2 separate regions of the Homo sapiens genome follow, and region 2 is linked to region 1. Evidence: fine-mapped expression QTL. Tissue or cell type: T cells. Region 1 holds a variant in brackets; the other region holds the start of a gene. All regions are shown on one strand. Distances are between the middles of the regions.

The links. PIP is the estimated chance that this variant, and not a neighbour inherited with it, causes the effect.
Region 2: DHRS7B starts here. The variant in region 1 is fine-mapped to the expression of DHRS7B in T cells (TOPMed, PIP 0.95).

What each region holds. Positions count from the first base shown.
Region 1 is chr17:20,651,420-20,659,523 of GRCh38, reverse strand. LOC105371583 (a long non-coding RNA gene) reads left to right here. Exons shown (of 3, transcript XR_934317.3): 2 at 3,589-3,775. It also overlaps the pseudogene LOC100287072 and the pseudogene LOC729334. Among named protein-coding and RNA genes, the nearest start is that of LINC02088, 22 kb to the right of the region's middle. The variant G/A (reference allele first, on the strand shown) is at 3,227.
Region 2 is chr17:21,122,215-21,130,307 of GRCh38, reverse strand. DHRS7B (dehydrogenase/reductase 7B) reads right to left here and starts at 3,344. Exons shown (of 7, transcript NM_015510.5): 1 at 3,317-3,344. The coding sequence starts at 3,336. RefSeq lists an enhancer at 3,023-3,682.

The DNA of each region.
Region 1 (8,104 bases):
ATTCACAATTATAATTCCAGTGATTTGGGAGACTAAGGTGGGAGGATCACTCAAGCCCAGGAGTTGAAGACCAGCCTCGGCAATAAAGTGACATCCCAGCTGGACAAAAATTCGAATTAGGAAGGCATGGTGGTGTTCGCCTGTCGTCCCCGCTATTTGGGAGGCTGAGTAGGAGGATCATTTGCGCCTGGGAGGTCAAGGCTTCAGTGAGCTGTGATCGTGCCACTGCACTCCAGCCTGGGTGACAAAGCAAGACCCTGTCTCAAAACAACAACAACAAAAAACAACCCCCCCAAAACAAAACGAAACAAAAAAACCCCGACATCCCTAATAAAATACTGACTTATAAACTGATGAGAAAGAAACAATCAGCTCAGTGAAATAATAGGCAAAAGTGCTAAACTAGCAACTCTAGAAGAGAAAGTGCAATTGGTTAGTACACATAAAAATATGCTCAGAGATATACAAATTAAAATCTAATAAGATAGTATTTTTCACTTATCCTATTGGCAAAAATAAGATCAACACTTTCTGTGGCTGCTCAGACTATGCAGAGATGGGCACGTTCATCAAGAGTGAAATGTCGGCCAGGTGCGGTGGCTCACGCCTGTAATCCCAGCACTTTGGGAGGCCAAGGCAGGCCGATCACGAGGTCAGGAGATCGAGACCATCCTGGCTAACACGGTGAAACCCCGTCTCTACTAAAAAATACAAAAAATTAGCCGGGCGTGGTGGCGGGCGCCTGTAGTTCCAGCTACTCCGGAGGCTGAGGCAGGAGAATGGTGTGGACCCGGGAGGCGGAGCTTGCAGTAAGCCAAGATCGTGCCACTGCACTCCAGCCTGGGCGACAGAGCGAGACTCCATCTCAAAAAAACAAACAAAAAAAAGAAAGTGAAATGTCACAGCAGTCAGGTGAGTAACCTGGAGACATCTATTAAGATAAAAATGTGTATATTCTCTAGAGCAGCAGTCATAGTTTTAGAAATTCATGCTATAAAAATAAAATCACAACTATATAGGACTATATGAATAAGGACTCGTATTATAGCATTATTCGTAACAAAGAAAACTATAACCTTGCTGGCATTAGTAAGACAATATTTGAATATTCCAGGGCACATCCCTCCTGTGGAAGGCCATGCAGCTCTTAAAATGAGTTCTCTTTGTATGTATTGACCTGGAAGGATGCCCATGTTACATGAAATAAAAAGTGAAGGTGCAGCATACTGTGTAGAACATAGTCCTGTTTATATTTAAACATATATAAATGAAGCCTATACATTTTATGATTAACAAAAAATATACACACTGTTACCAGTGATTTCCTTGCAGGGTGAGTACTGAAGGAGGAGAAAGATTAGTATTTTTCTTGACACATCTCCATTTTGCTACCAGTATACCTAAATATTACTTCATAATTAGGAGAAAATCCAATACATTAATTCACCAATCTATTCATTTTTAAATTTCAACAAGAAACATCTAGACTAAAAAGTCCATACTATATTTTCTGAGATTCTACAGTTTTGCTTAAAAATTAATTTATGCAAAACTAGTGTTTTTGCTCCACGTCCTCTTGTTCTAATAATAAAATCATTCATATCCCAGCTCAACCTTCTATCTACAACTTATATTTAAAGTCCAGCTTGTTTCTCCTTCAAATTCTATTATTTGAGGAGGCTTTGAAGTTCTGAAACTATATTCATGAAAAAATGTAGAACAAAATGACATAAAGGCCCTGCAGAAACATAGCTGGTGATTAAAACTCAAGCAGCAGGCCGGGCGCGGTGGCTCACGCCTGTAATCCCAGCACTCTGGGAGGCCGAGGTGGACAGATCACAAGGTCAGGAGATCCAGACCATCCTGACCAACACGGTGAAACTCCGTCTCTACTAAAAATATAAAAAATTAGCTGGGTGTGGTGGCCAGCACCTGTAGTCCCAGCTACTCAGGAGGCTGAGGCAAGAGAATGGCGTGAACCCGGGAGATGGAGGTTAGTGAGCTGAGACTGCGCCACTGCACTCCAGCCTGGGCGATAGAGCGAGACTCCGTCTCAAAAAAAAAAAAAAAACCTTAAGCAGCAGACGAGCTTCTGTATAACAACATTATTTAGCATTTTACAAATGCTTACAGATAAAAATACTCAGCAGTACCTGGAGTAAAGATAGGACAAAATGTGGGCTGCAAATACAGTGGTGCCTTTTAAGTTGAGGTTGCAGTTTTCTTACTGTTTATATTTAAAAACATCCAGCAAATGAGTTTTAAATCATCCCAACAACTCTGAATACGAGATAAAGAGCTCCCAGAATCTACAGTCCTACTCGCAAGTATTTATTTTTACACAGAAGATATCAATGTCTCTTCTTTCTCACACCAAGCTAATGTTTCTAGTGATTCTGTGCTGTCTGGTTTGACACCCCAAAACATCTTCCTGAGTTTAAAGAGCACTCCTGTTCCTAATTTTCCTTTTATTAGACAGTAACTCTTGCCTTGTCTCATCCTTTGGATAAAATAGATACTAGCTTTCCTTTGGATAGCTAATAGCTCCATGCTGAGAACTGCAGGAGGTTTCTGCCTGATGGAGGTTGCTGAAATGGATTTGGATCTTCACAAACACAGGTATTCCCGGAAGTTTAAAATCACATTTCTGGAAGTTTAAAATCCACATAAAATTGTGGATCGCTCTGAGTTGAACACTAAGTTTCCAGGCTGAGTTTCATCCATGAGGCTTTTGGTGTAGTTGTCATTCAACCGTTTTCCATTAGATTTCTATTGCCACTGTCACCATGCTTACCTATCTGGCTTAACAGCATCCTTTATGATCAACTGCTGAGACCAGCTTGGTTGGGAGACCCTAACCCAGTGGCACTAGAGGAATTAAAGACACACACACAGCAACATAGAGGTGTGGAGTGGGAAATCAGGGGTCTCAAGCCTTCAGAGCTGAGAGCCTCAAACAGAGATTTACCCACATATTTACTGACAGCAAGCCAGTGATAAGCATTGTTTCTATATAGATTAACTAAGACTATTCCTTACGGGAAACAAAGGGATGTGCCGAAATAAAGGGATGGGCTCTGGCTAGTTATCAGCAGCAGGAGCATGCTCTCCTTAAACAGATCGATCATGCTATTGTTTGTGGTTTAAGAACGCCTTTAAGCGGTTTTCTGCCCTGGGTGGGCCAGGTGTTCCTTGTCCTCATTCCGGTAAACCCACAACCTTCAGC[G/A]TGGGCGTCATGGCCATCACAAACATGTCACAGTGCTGCAGAGATTTTGTTTATGGCCAGTTTGGGGGCCAGTTTATGGCCAGATTTTGGGGGCCTATTCCCAACAATGAACGAAACATCTACTTGCGTTTAGCCCAGCAAGATTCTGGAAATCAAACCAAAGCTTAGTGGTACTTAGTTTCAGATGAGGTAATGAAGTCAGACCCTGTGTGAAGAGGCACAATCAAGACCCCACAGAAGGAAGCCAAACTTTTTGACTTCTTCGGAATAAGCATTACTCAGATCTGCTCTGCCACTGTGCCTTCTCAACATTCCAGCTGCAAATAACTCTTCTTCATGAGACCTGTACTTTCTTTTTTCAGTACAACTTCATTTTATTCTCCAAATAAAAGACTGCTGAAGCTTCTGAGAAAAAGAAAAAAGAGTGAAGGATCATCTTTGATCATGCAGTGAGCTGATTCCAAAATGTGGACAAAAAGCAGACTCAAAGGCAATGGTTCCGAGAAACAGTGAATGTCACAAGGAGACACCTGGGCTCTTTATAAAGAGGTAATTTCTCTTCTACACATTCCCCCTTTCATACAGAGATGGCTGTGGATCCCAATCATGGGAAGAGCTGGGCTGTCTTTCTTCCACCAAATGCTCTGCTAGCTGACAGAGCCCACTGAGAGGTGAAAATAGAAATGGGGAGGGAGAGGCTGTAAAGGAGTTACCCTAAGGCAACACGGTCTTAGTTCACAAACGCAAGAATTTCCAGCTTACACTGCCCTACGGGGACAAGCTAATGTCCAGGACAGGCCAATGGGTTTTAATTCCTACTGTTCCAATTTTTTGGAAGCCAAAGGTTTTCGGACATAAAAAAATGTCAGACTACAAATGCCTGTACTAGGCTCCTCCACCAGAACTTCTCCAACAAAGAACTGTGTGGTGAAGCAGAGATGCCCATGATGAACACCACAGGCCCCTCCAGAATTTACAGAGAGGCTTGTGCTTCCCCTCTACTGTCAAGGCCAAAAAACTTTTTTTCTTTCATAATTTCAACCTAAAAATCCTAAAGGCCTAAGAGAAGCTTATGTCCACACCGTTCAAATCTGTAAAGATGCGGATTAGGGAATAGGGAGGCAGACACAGCTATTTAGAATTATAGACTGTGTATGTCATAAATCTAAACTATAAAAAAAAAGTACTATGTGAGTCAACAGATAAGGCTGGCTAGAGTAAGAGGATATGAGAGGACCAGGTTCTACATTAAGGGCCAAATTAAATGCCAGAAGCCCCTGTTCGTCATGGGTGCTAAGGTGAAGTCTGTTCAGAAACTGTTTAGGAATCCTTAGCGGAATGGGCCCCCTCCACCTGGGACAGGGGCTCGGTACCAGAGCATCTGCAGCAAGAGAGCTTGAAAAGGGACCTTAGGGACCCAAGAATCTATACCTCCAACTTCTGCCCTTCCCCTCTCCGCAGCAGCTGGAGAACATGTGCTAAGCGGCTGTGACCCATTAGAGCCATCAGAGCAACACAGAGGGCAGTGCGGGCACATGCAGCGACGCTCGGGCTGACACTGATGTGCACACACGGAGTTAAGCCAATTCCAGCGGAGTCTGCACATGCTGTGCTGCCACAGTGCTCACCTCCGAGAGGGGACAACCCAAGAACTGGTGGTGCAGGCAAAACACATTCGAATCACAGACATTCTATTTAGATACCAATAGCATTAATTAGGCACAGATGTTAAGTGTGTTTAATGATCTCTTTTAAAGATGTTTTCCTTCCATGGATGTTTACTGGTGTTATATAAACACTGTAAGAATTAGGTAAGTCACCCTGAAATAACAGCATTTACTGTTTCAGAACAAGAGAAATAAACAAACACAGTAAATGCAGAGGTCTTTCCCCGCTGCTGTTAGAGAAGCCTTGTGTCATGCACTGCTCATCAACAATGGGGAAACCACTGTGTCAAAGAGGTTCAAAGGATTGCATCAGAAAGATGCTAAGGCTGGCACAGGAATTTCTGACTCTCCCACCAGGGAAAGGTCAGCTGACCAACCAGTCCAGAGAATAGCAGAGCTTAAACGGACCTTGAAAACTACTCACTTTTCCCACCTCTTTTAACAGAGGCAGGAGACGGGGCTGGGAACGAGATATTGCTAGTTGGCTGCAAACATGAGGCTGAGAATGAGATACTGCTGGTTGGCTGCAAAGACGAGGCTACCACCTTCCTTCCCCATATACCTTAACATCAGTTATTCTAACTCTGAAATAAAAATATTTTTGAAGTGTAACAGGGCTGAAGATCATTGATGAGTTAGATAATATCCCACTGTGTAGTCACTGAGTTCCGGTAATAAATGCTGATTTGCATTCCTGCCTGGGCGCTTCATCTCATGCCTATCAGCCTGGCTGCAACCATCCCTGTGAGTGCCCACGGGGGCAAACAGTTTAAGAATCAGGTAATCCCGTGTCAGGATCCAGGTGCTTTTTGGGTGTTCTTACCTTCTCTCAGTTGTACTTGAAGATCTCATCAGAGAATGTTCTGCAAGTTCTTTTGCTGTGGCTGAACCAAGGATGACTTTTGAGTTCTCATTAGATGACTGCCAAAGTCAAATTGAGTTTCAATCAAGAACTCATTCAGCCAAGACGGAAACACTGGCTGGCTTCGGGAGCTTGGAGGGTGTGAGTTGGTTCTAGTTCTTGCTCATGGGGTAGGTTCCAGGAGTGACCGAGCCATGAGCGAGTAATTACCCAATAGTCAACTCTTCAGAGGTGACAGCTTGCCAGAGAAGTGCAAAATCAGACAAGAAACCATCACTGGCACTTGTCTGACTTCCTGCCAAACACAATGGCAGGCAAAATCATCATGATGCCTGATTTCAGTACCATGACACGTTCTCATTGGTGTCAGTTCCAAAATTTGAAATGTTTTGTGGTAAGGGATTAAACTGCTATATTGAGAAAGTAATGTTGCAAATCACCGGAAAATCAAAAAAGAAAATTCTGTGTTTAAAAAAACAATGACGTTAAGACTGAAGATGCAGGATGCAGCATAGGGAGTCCTAAACTGCCAGGATGCATGCGGAGATTTCCTAGAATACCAGGGTTCACACTGCATGGTATGGCCTGTGTCTCACAGTATACATAAGAAATGAAGCAGCTCATACAAGAACCTGGTTATTCAGGGCTACCATGGAAACTTAGGACTTACCTTTTACCATTTATCATTAAAATAGCGTCCATGTGAAGCAACACAAGTTCTGACTGGGATCTTCTTCCAATGACAGACAATAGGGAAGCAAGACAGAGGCAAACAAACAACAGCAGACACAGAGGCCACCCTGAATGGCCTCACTGCTGTTTCAACAGGGAACACTGCAAAATCTAGTTTTCCTAAAATCCACATCCTTTGGTGGCCAGAGGGTAGAGGTCCGGCTATAAAGTAATGATCTTGTCTGGTGCAACTGTAGTCCCAAATACTCTTAAATGTCACTATTAGCAGAGCTCTCTGGGCTGATAGGCTGTGTGTTTCTTCCCGTCCAGAGCAGAGGGGAATGTCATACATCAGCCAAATGCATGTTTTCCACTCTTTTTAAAATAAAGTGAGTTATGTCAAGGCCTGTTGAAGTAGCCCATGGGTGTTGTCAAATAAGTAGACACATCCCTGGGCCGGGAGGAATGTGTCCTTATTTGGTGGCTCCTCCCCTCAGGAGTGATTCCAGCTTCTCCCACTGCATGGGAGTGACCTGTGCAAGGTGGTGGGCTCGTATTTATCAGTGTGCACTCCCTGCACTAATAAATACTAAGATTCAAGGAGCATCCTAGACAGGACTTCTATTCTTTAAGCCTAGCAGGATACTTGGCTAGAACTCGCCCTTCATATGTAAGTGAGGAGCTTAGCAGCCCCTTATGCTGCTAAGCATGGCAGAAACTGGGCACTGGATGGAATGTTCCTAGTGATGCGGTAGCACTGGTAATGCAGACTGATCCCAGAAAAGAAACAGCAGAGCCTTGCACAGAGAGACATGAAGCGTCTCATCCCCACCAGGGAGCCCCACGCACAGTAATTAAGTGAAAAGCAAGCATGGCCTGGGTGCCCACTAGACTCACGGAGGGGCAGCTCTGCTGGAAACCACCCTGCCGCAGCCCTGCACATCCCCCAGCTCCTTCTGCAGCCAGGCATTCTCCTCCTCCTTCTCCTCCTCCTCCAGCAGTTCAGCAGTTTCCTCTTCACAGTGCCCAGCTCCTGCTGGGCTTCTCACTTGACATTGTTGGCCACTGCCACCGCAGTCTGCAGATCTGGCTGGAACCACCTCCATTCCATGGTCTCCTTCTGAAAATGCCAGAGCCCAACCCTGTGTCAGATGCCTGCCAGGGCTGGTGCCTGAGCAGAGACTCCAGAGCCCCTGTATCAGTCACCAAGAAAGAACAGCCAGCAGTGCTTAGTGAGGCCCTGCTTTCACGGTGTCTTGCTGCTAGGAAAAGGCACTGGTGGAAATTACACCTTCAGGTTATGAGAGCTCTCCATCCTGACAACAAATGACTGCTTTGACTTTACTTCCTGCTGGCAAGAACTTACAGTTTCAGGGCCCATGTCATGAAAATGTTCCAAGATAAAGCAGGATAGAGAGAGTGATCCCGACTTTGGAGGGGTAATTTATAGGAAGATGGTGGTGAAGGCTCCTGCCACATCTCCCCTGTATCTGCTCAGTCAGAGTCTTTAGCTGCCTCCCCAGATCTGACTTCTGTTTCTCCAGCTTGATCACATTACCTAGAAATAGACAATTCAGACAGGCCTTGGAAGAGTTGTGAGACTCTTGAGAGAAGGTAAGTCAGGTAGCAAAGGGGCAGCTCCACATGCCACAGCAGGTGTTCAAATCTACTCTAAAT
Region 2 (8,093 bases), 470 kb before region 1:
AGCGATTCTCCTGCCTCAGCCTCCTGAGTAGCTGGGATTACAGGCACACGCCACCACACATTTTTGTATTTTTAATAGAGACGGGGTTCGCCATGTTGGCCAGGCTGGTCTCGAACTCCTGACCTCAGGTGATCTGCCCTCCTCAGCCTCCCAAAGTACTGGGATTACAGGCGTGAGCCACCGTGCTCAGCCAAACCCCCTATTTTAAATGGAAATATCCAGGAAGACAATGCCCCAGCCCTATCCCTATCACTGTGGAAGTTTAGCCTAGGCACCTCAACTACTTGTTTTATCATAGAGCTGTTTCATGTTTTCCTTTGGAAAAAAGTAACTAGGTAGCACAGATGACCAACCCAATTACCAGGTGAATTTAGAATGAACTATGAAAACATGTACAGCAAATGGTGCTGTCAAGTCTTCTTATAAGAGGACAAATTACCATTAATCTTGAGACTACATAATGGGTTGTATCTGCTCAGCTGCATACAAATAAGTGGTGGGATTTCTTTTCTGAAAGAAACTGCATTAGCATATTATCCATAATACATTCCAGTCTGGTTTAATGCTTATTTTTTTCTTTTTCTTTTTTTTTTTTTTTTTTTTGAGTCAGGGTCTTACTCTGCTGCCCAGGCTGGAGTGCCGTAGTATTATCACAGTTTACTGTAGCCGCAAACTCCTGGGCTCAAGTGATCCTCCTGACTCAGCCTTCTGAGTAACTGGGACAACAGGTACACACCAGCACGCCTAGATAATTTTTTATTTTTTGTAGAAATGGGGTCTCCCTATGTTGCCCAGGCTAGTCTCAAACTCCTGGCCTCACATGATCCTCCCACCTCAGCCTCCCAAAGCGCTCGGATTATAGGTGTGAGCCACCACCTACAGCCTCACAGGGGTCTTTAAGTAACAAGATACAAGCTCCTCCTAGTCTCAAGACCTCACACATGCCCTTCCCTCCTCCTGTTAGCTCTTTGTCCAATTTAACTCCAACTCAGTCCTTTAAGTCTCAGCTAAATATTATTTTCTTGGGAAAGCCTTCCCTGTCTCTCCTCATTTCCCCCTCCGCATGCCGGTGACTCCATTATGTATCCTCACAGCACCCTCTACTGTCCTCCACAGCATGCATCACAATCGTAATTAATATTTAGTTTTATTTATATATTTACTATCTCCCTTGCTAGATTTATAAGCAATTTAAAGACAGGGGCTTTATCTGTTTTGATCATCATTGTATCCACAACACCCAGCACAATGCTGGTACACTGTAAACGTTCAATAAGTATCTGAAGGAATGAATGAAATTTGTAGCTAAGCGCTAGGTTCTGGAGTGACATGGCATTGGATCGGCCTTTACTAGCTCTATGCCTTTGTTGTTGTTTGTTGTTGTTGTTGTTGTTGTTTGAGACAGGGTGTCACTTTTTTTTTTTTTTTTTTTTTAAGACGGAGTCTCCTCGCTCTTGTCGCCCAGGCTGGAATGCAGTGGCGGCATCTCGGCTCACTGCAACCTCTGCCTCCCAGGTTCAAGCGATTCTCCTGCCAAAGCCTCCCGAGTAGCTGGGATTACAGGCGCCCACCACCACGCCCGGCTAATTTTTGTTTGTTTGTTTGTTTTGAGACAGAGTCTCACTATGTCGCCCAGGCTGGAGTGCAGCGGCGGGATCTCGGCTCACTGCAAGCTCCGCCATCCGGAGCACGCCATTCTCCTGCCTCAGCCTCCCTAGTAGCTGGGACTACAGACGCCCGCCACCAAGCCCAGCCAATTTTTTTGAATTTTTTTAGTAGAGACGGGGTTTCACCGTGTTAGCCAGGATGGTCTCGAGGTCCTGACCTCGTGATCCGCCCGCCTTGGCCTCCCAAAGTGCTGGAAATACAGGCGTGAGCCACCGCGCCCAGCCAATTTTTGTATTTTTTAGTAGAGACGGGGTTTCACCACGTTGGCCAGGCTGGTCTCGAACTCCTGACCTCAGGTGATCCGCCCGCCTCAGCCTCCTAAAGTGCTGGGATTACATGTGTGAGCCACTGCGCCCAGCCAAGACAGGGTCTCACTTTGTCACCCAGACTTGAATGCAATGGCGTGATCTCGGCTCACTGCAGCCTGTCTCCCAGGTTCAAGCAATCCACTTGCCTCAGCCCCAACAAATAGCTGGGACTACAGGCGTGTGCTACCTTGCCTGGCTAATAGCTCTATGCCTTTGGATAAACTTCTTAACATCTCTAAGCCCATTTCTCCCTCCATAAATAAAAATTATAGTTCCTATGATTAGGGTTATTACAGGATTGAATAATTCAGTAAAGGGATTAGTACAGTGCCTGTAACATAGCAAACACTCAAAAAATATCAACTATTATTAAGGAATGGAGAAAAGGGGACATGTACATGGTAGGGAAGGCATATTCCACACCCTTGGCAAAGGCACAAACATAGCTTCCATTATGCAAACACACCGTTGCAATCGGCAACAGTGTAAGCAAGAATTCTGCTTACTAAATGTATGAGTGTGTGAAACCCAAACGTTACTTCAAAAGTAACTTCACGATTCTCCAATCACTACATGGAAGGTTTGGAAACTGAAAAAAAGAGCATTATGTGGCTACCATTTGTTGAATACCTACTATGTGCCAGACACCAGCTGAGCACCTTGCACGCGCAGTCTCATTTACGCTTCACAACAACCTTATGAGTGGGCTTGTTACTCCCAAAGTTACAGCTGAAGAAACACTCAGAGTTTAAAACATTTGCCCAAAGCCGCACAGCCAGGAAGCCGCAGAGTAAGTATTGGAAGAGCAAGATATCTCAACCAGCCATTCCCGTGGACGCTCGAGTCAGCACCCTCCTCCTGCCTTCTGAAAAACCGGACTTCCTTTGCTAGTCCTAACTCGCCGTCACTGGCTAAGGTGCCACTGGCCCCCAGCGCTCAACCCTCGGTCCTGCCACTCGCAGACGCTGCGGAGCCTCCCCTACGTCGCGCAGAAATGTGGGAATAAACAGGTTGAAGCCAGGAGCCCTGTGGGCGCGAGGCCTTTCACACACAGCGCCCGGCGCGACACCCATTCCCAGCAGCGGAAACTGGACTCAAGACACCTCGGCGACAGGCGGGTTTCCCCGCCACGCACTCGCCGGAGCCAGGGCTCTGGTCCCAGCGCCTGGGCTGAGTCTTCCTTCAGAGTTCGGCGTCGCGGGGATCCGGAAGCCGCCCAGGGCCCGCGGCCTTAGCTCGACCACTACACCGCTTCCCCTCACCCAAGCCGGGGCGTCGCCTCAGCTCAAGGCCAGACCCTATCGCCTCATCTCGGAGGTTCCTTCTTCCCCAGCCCCTACCTGGTAGCCGGAGAGACCATAGTCAATCAACTTCATCCTCCCGCCTCGGAAGTGACGTGTACGCAGCCGGCGAGGCTCCGTCCAATCCCAGCATTGAGGCTGCGCATGCGCGTTGGGTGGGCGTCCCTCAAGGTGTACACAGGACCCGATGGACCCGAGATCTGATAGGGTCCACCCGCATAACTACAGTGCCTTCATCTTCCGGAGGGAAATTCCGAAGGTCGTGGTTGGTGTTCCGTGGACTTCCGGCGAAGAACACAGTTGGAGAATTCACGATACAGTTATCAAGATGATTATAATGCCACAGTAATCAGAACAGTGTGATAACTGGCACAAAGGTAAAAACAATGAATGAAAAAGAGAGAGACCAGAAACAGACCTGCAGCTATGTAGTCACTTTTTCCTCCTACAAGTAGCCACTGTAATGCAATAAGAAGAGTTTTTTCAATATATAGTGCTAGGTCAATTGAAGGTCGATTGGGGGGAAATGAACCTTGACTCCTATCTCAAGTAAAATAATTCTAGACGGATGGTAGACCTGAATGTGAACAATACAACTCTAGACAATAAAATCGCAGAATATTATGACCATAAGAGAGGAAAATAACGTGTTAGCAGAACACAAAAAGTGCCAGTCCTAAAGGAAAAAGCTGATAAATTGGGTGTCTGTAACTATAAGACACCGAAAAGACCCCATTGAGAAAAGGGAAAGACAATAGAACAGACAAGATATTTGTAATACATATATCTGAAAATGAATTTTATTCAGAATATGTACGTACTTCTTGCAAGTAAATTTTTTAAAGGACCCGAAGTGATTTAAAAAAAAAAAAAAAGCATGAAAAGAGGATATTGAGAGAGTAAAGGGCAGAGGAAGGAAGGGGCAGGGCAGAGGAAGGAAGGGGCGGGGGGACTCTTATCGTTCAAAATCATAAGATGGCAAATGTGTGTAAGGTGGAAAATCTCCCTTTCTGTTCTCCAGGACCCACTTCACCTCCCCCTAGGTAACGATGCTATTAGCTATGTGTGTCCTTCCAGAGCCAGTTTATTCATAACCAAGCAATTATGTATGTATTCAGCACCCCCTTGTTACACAAACAATAGCATTCTGAAACGTCCTTCTGTTTCTTGCTTTTATTAACTTTAGCGAATTAATATATCCTGGAAATTCTTACAGATATTCACAAAATCTGAAAATGGGAAATTTTATTTTTAACTAAATATTTATTTTTGACGTTTTCACAAAAGTTTTTATACCTTTCTGGCCCCTCTCCATTGTTCTGGAAACTCTAGATTCCTGCTTGCCAATTCACAAAGTTTGAATATCCTTGTAGCAAACCCAATATGAACCGTAAGGCAGAAAAATAGGGTCTGGAGACAGGGAACCTAAGGCCAATTCACGCTGACTTCCTAGAACTAAATCAAAAGGAAAACCCGAACTTTCCATGCCCAGGTAACAAAAGGAACAGAAGCTAGTCCCTTTGCAACCTGCCCCGCTTTTCTGCCTGGCAGATGAAAAATTGAAGGTACCTCTGATTGGTCCCCTCTTGCAACCAATCAGGCTGATCACAGGCCACTACTTCTTTTACATAGAGTGTACACCAAGTAACCAACGGGAACCCTCTAGAGGGTATTTAAACTCCAGAAAATTCTGTAACCGGGCTCTTGAGCCACCTGCTAGGCAGGCTCCCAACCTGTGGAGTGTGCTTTTGTTTTCAATAAATCTCTGCTTTTGTTGCATCATTCTTTCCTTGCTTTGTTTGTGCGTTTTGTCCAATTGTTTGTTCAAAACGCCAAGAACCTGGACACTCTCCACTGGTAACACCTGAGTCTTTATTGCATGACTAAGTCAGTTTCCTGGGGTTCATTTCCCAGGCCTGCTACCCTCTTAGCCTACCCACTCTTCAATCCTGCATGGAATTTGTTTTAGAAGCAACTCAATATATTTCAAAGTTTTGGTAACCAATTTGAATTGCATCTGCCAAATGCAAGTGTAAAAACTCTAACTTCGCAGCCAGGATATTATACAAAAAGGATTCCAGTGGGCCGGGTGCAGTGGCTCACACCTGTAATCCAGCATTTTGGAAGGCTGAGGCAGGCGGATCACCTGAGGTCGGGAGTTTGAGATCAGCCTGGCCAACATGGGGAAACCCCATCTACTAAAAATACAAAAAAATCAGCCAGGCATGGTGTCGTTTACCTGTAGTCCCAGCTACTCAGGAGGCTGAGGAAGGAGAATCACTTGAAACCAGGAGGTGGAGGTTGCAGTGAGCAGAGATCATGCCACTGCACTCCAGCCTGGGCAACACAGCGAGACTCCATCTCAAACAAACAAACAAAACAAATAGATTCCAGTGGTTAGCACAGTTCCATGGCCTTCTATGAAAACAAGATGGAAGATTTTTGTTTCCAGGAAGATGAACTAGACACAATTTTCCCTATTCCTTTTACTAAGTACAACTAAAAATTGTGGGCATTATATATAAAACAATCTAAGACTCCAAAAGTTGGAGAGAAGGCAAACCAGCTAGCCACCCTGGGACGCAAGGAACAACATGGTGGGTGTTGCCTTATATATCCCAGACTGGGTGCTAGGAAGCAAGCAACCTGGAAATGCCGACAGGCAAAGACAATGCCCTAAGAAAAGCCTTCTCTCTCTAGCCACAGGACCAGGAAATGGGCAGCCTCAGAGGACAGAAAACGTTTACACAATAATGGCTCTAATCCAGCCCAAACCACAGAAAAAGCCCCATCCCCATGCTTGCCTCTTGGAAAGCCTAGACTGCCACGCATGCTAGGCTGTAAAGAGGCACCACTGTCCCCTCTCCCTGGCATGGTGTCAGAGAAGGCCAAGTGGAGGGCTGGATTTTCTTTTTATTTTTATTTTTTATTTTTTCTTTTTTTTTTGAGACGGAGTCTGGTTCTCTCACCCAAGCTGGAGTGCAGTGGCACAATCTCGGCTCACTGCAACCTCTGCCTCCTGGGTTCAAGCAATTCTCCTGCCTCAGCCTCCTGAGTAGCTGGGATTACAGGCTCACGCCACCACGCCTGGCTAATTTTTGTATTTTTAGTAGAGACGGGGTTTCACCATATTGGCCAGGATGGTCTTGATCTCTTGAGCCTGTGATCCACCCACCTCGGCCTCCTGAAGTGCTGGGATTATAGGCGTGAGCCACCGCGCCCGGCCGAGGGCTGGATTTTCATTCCCACTGAGAGGTGAGGAGACTCTCCCCCAGCATGGTATCAGTGGAAACCATATGGAGAACCTGGACTTCTACCCCACTTAATTGTAAGAAAGCACTCATCCTCTTCCCTGGGGTGATGTCAGAGAGAGTGTTCCATCAAAGCCACCCCCAAAGCCACCCCCAAATGCCCAAGGAGCTGAGAAAACGTAGGAAGCAGACAAATCCAGTTTGTCCATATAGGATAATTATTAGAGGGAGCTTACAGACAGAAGCATGGTCTTGGGTGTCCACAAGGCAGGTGGATCTCCACACAGTAGCCCCGTAGAACCAGGGCTTATATCTTGGGGAAAAAATATACTTACTCTTGGAGGAATGTGTAGATGGTTGAGAGAATGCTGTGGGTGTCACAACCTATGATTTCTGCAACAGCATCAAGGGTTGTTTCTGTAAAAAGGCAAAAGTTACAGTGAATAGGTGATCCGGTATAAAGAGTAATACATCAACTAGACATTTTGGAGGCATTCCTGGAATTGGAGTTAGCGGATTCGCATTGAAAATAGTCACTCTTGTCCCCATAGGGAGCCAAGTGGAGAGTCAGGACTTTCAACGTCACTCAGTTGCAACAAAGCCACCTCCCACCCCACATATCAGTGGAGGTCCCCTCCCCATCCCAGCAAGGGTGGTATCCCTGGAGGCCAACTGGAGAGCCTGAACTCCCACTTGTGCCAAACAACCTCCCTCCACGTGTCAACAAAGGCCAAGTGGAAAACCTGGACTTCCACCCCTACTTGGCAATAATGAAGAGGCATCCCCTTCCCCTGCCAAAGTGGGTCAGGAAGCCTGCTAAAACACAAGATTTAAATGAGATCCAGAGTCTTATGACACCCCAAAGTCCAGGTTTCCACCAAAAAGCACTCATTATACCAAGAAATGGGAAAATCTAAACTTCAATGAGAAAACACAATCAACAGCTGGGCGTGGTGGCTCGCGCCTGTAATCCCAGCACTTTGGGAGGCCAAGGTGGGTGGATCACCTGAGGTCAGGAGTTCAAGACCAGCCTGACCAACATGGTGAAACCCCGTCTCTGTTAAAAATACAAAAATTAGCCGGGCATGGTGGCACATGCCTATAATCCCAGCTACTCGGAGGCTAAGGCAGGAGAATCACTTGAAACCGGGAGGCAGAGGTTGTGGTGAGCCGAGATCACGCCATTGCACTCCAGCTGGGGCAACAAGAGCAAAACTTCATCTCAAAAAAAAAAAAAGAAAGAAAAGAAAAGAAAACACAATGAACAGATGCCAACACAGCCGAACAAGGGGGCACACACCTGTAACTGCAGCACTTCGGGAGGCCAAGATGGAAGGATCCCTTAAACCCAGGAGTTCAAAACCAGCCTCGGCAACATAGTGAGACCCCCATCTCTACGAATAAATTTTTTAAAAAAATTAGTGGGGCTTGGTGACATGTGCCTGTAGTCCCAGCTACCTGGGAGGCTGAGGTGGGAGGATCACTTGAGCACAGGAGTTTGAGGCTGCAGTGAGCTATGATTGCACCACTGCACTCCAGCCTGGGTGACAAAGTGAGACCCTGTC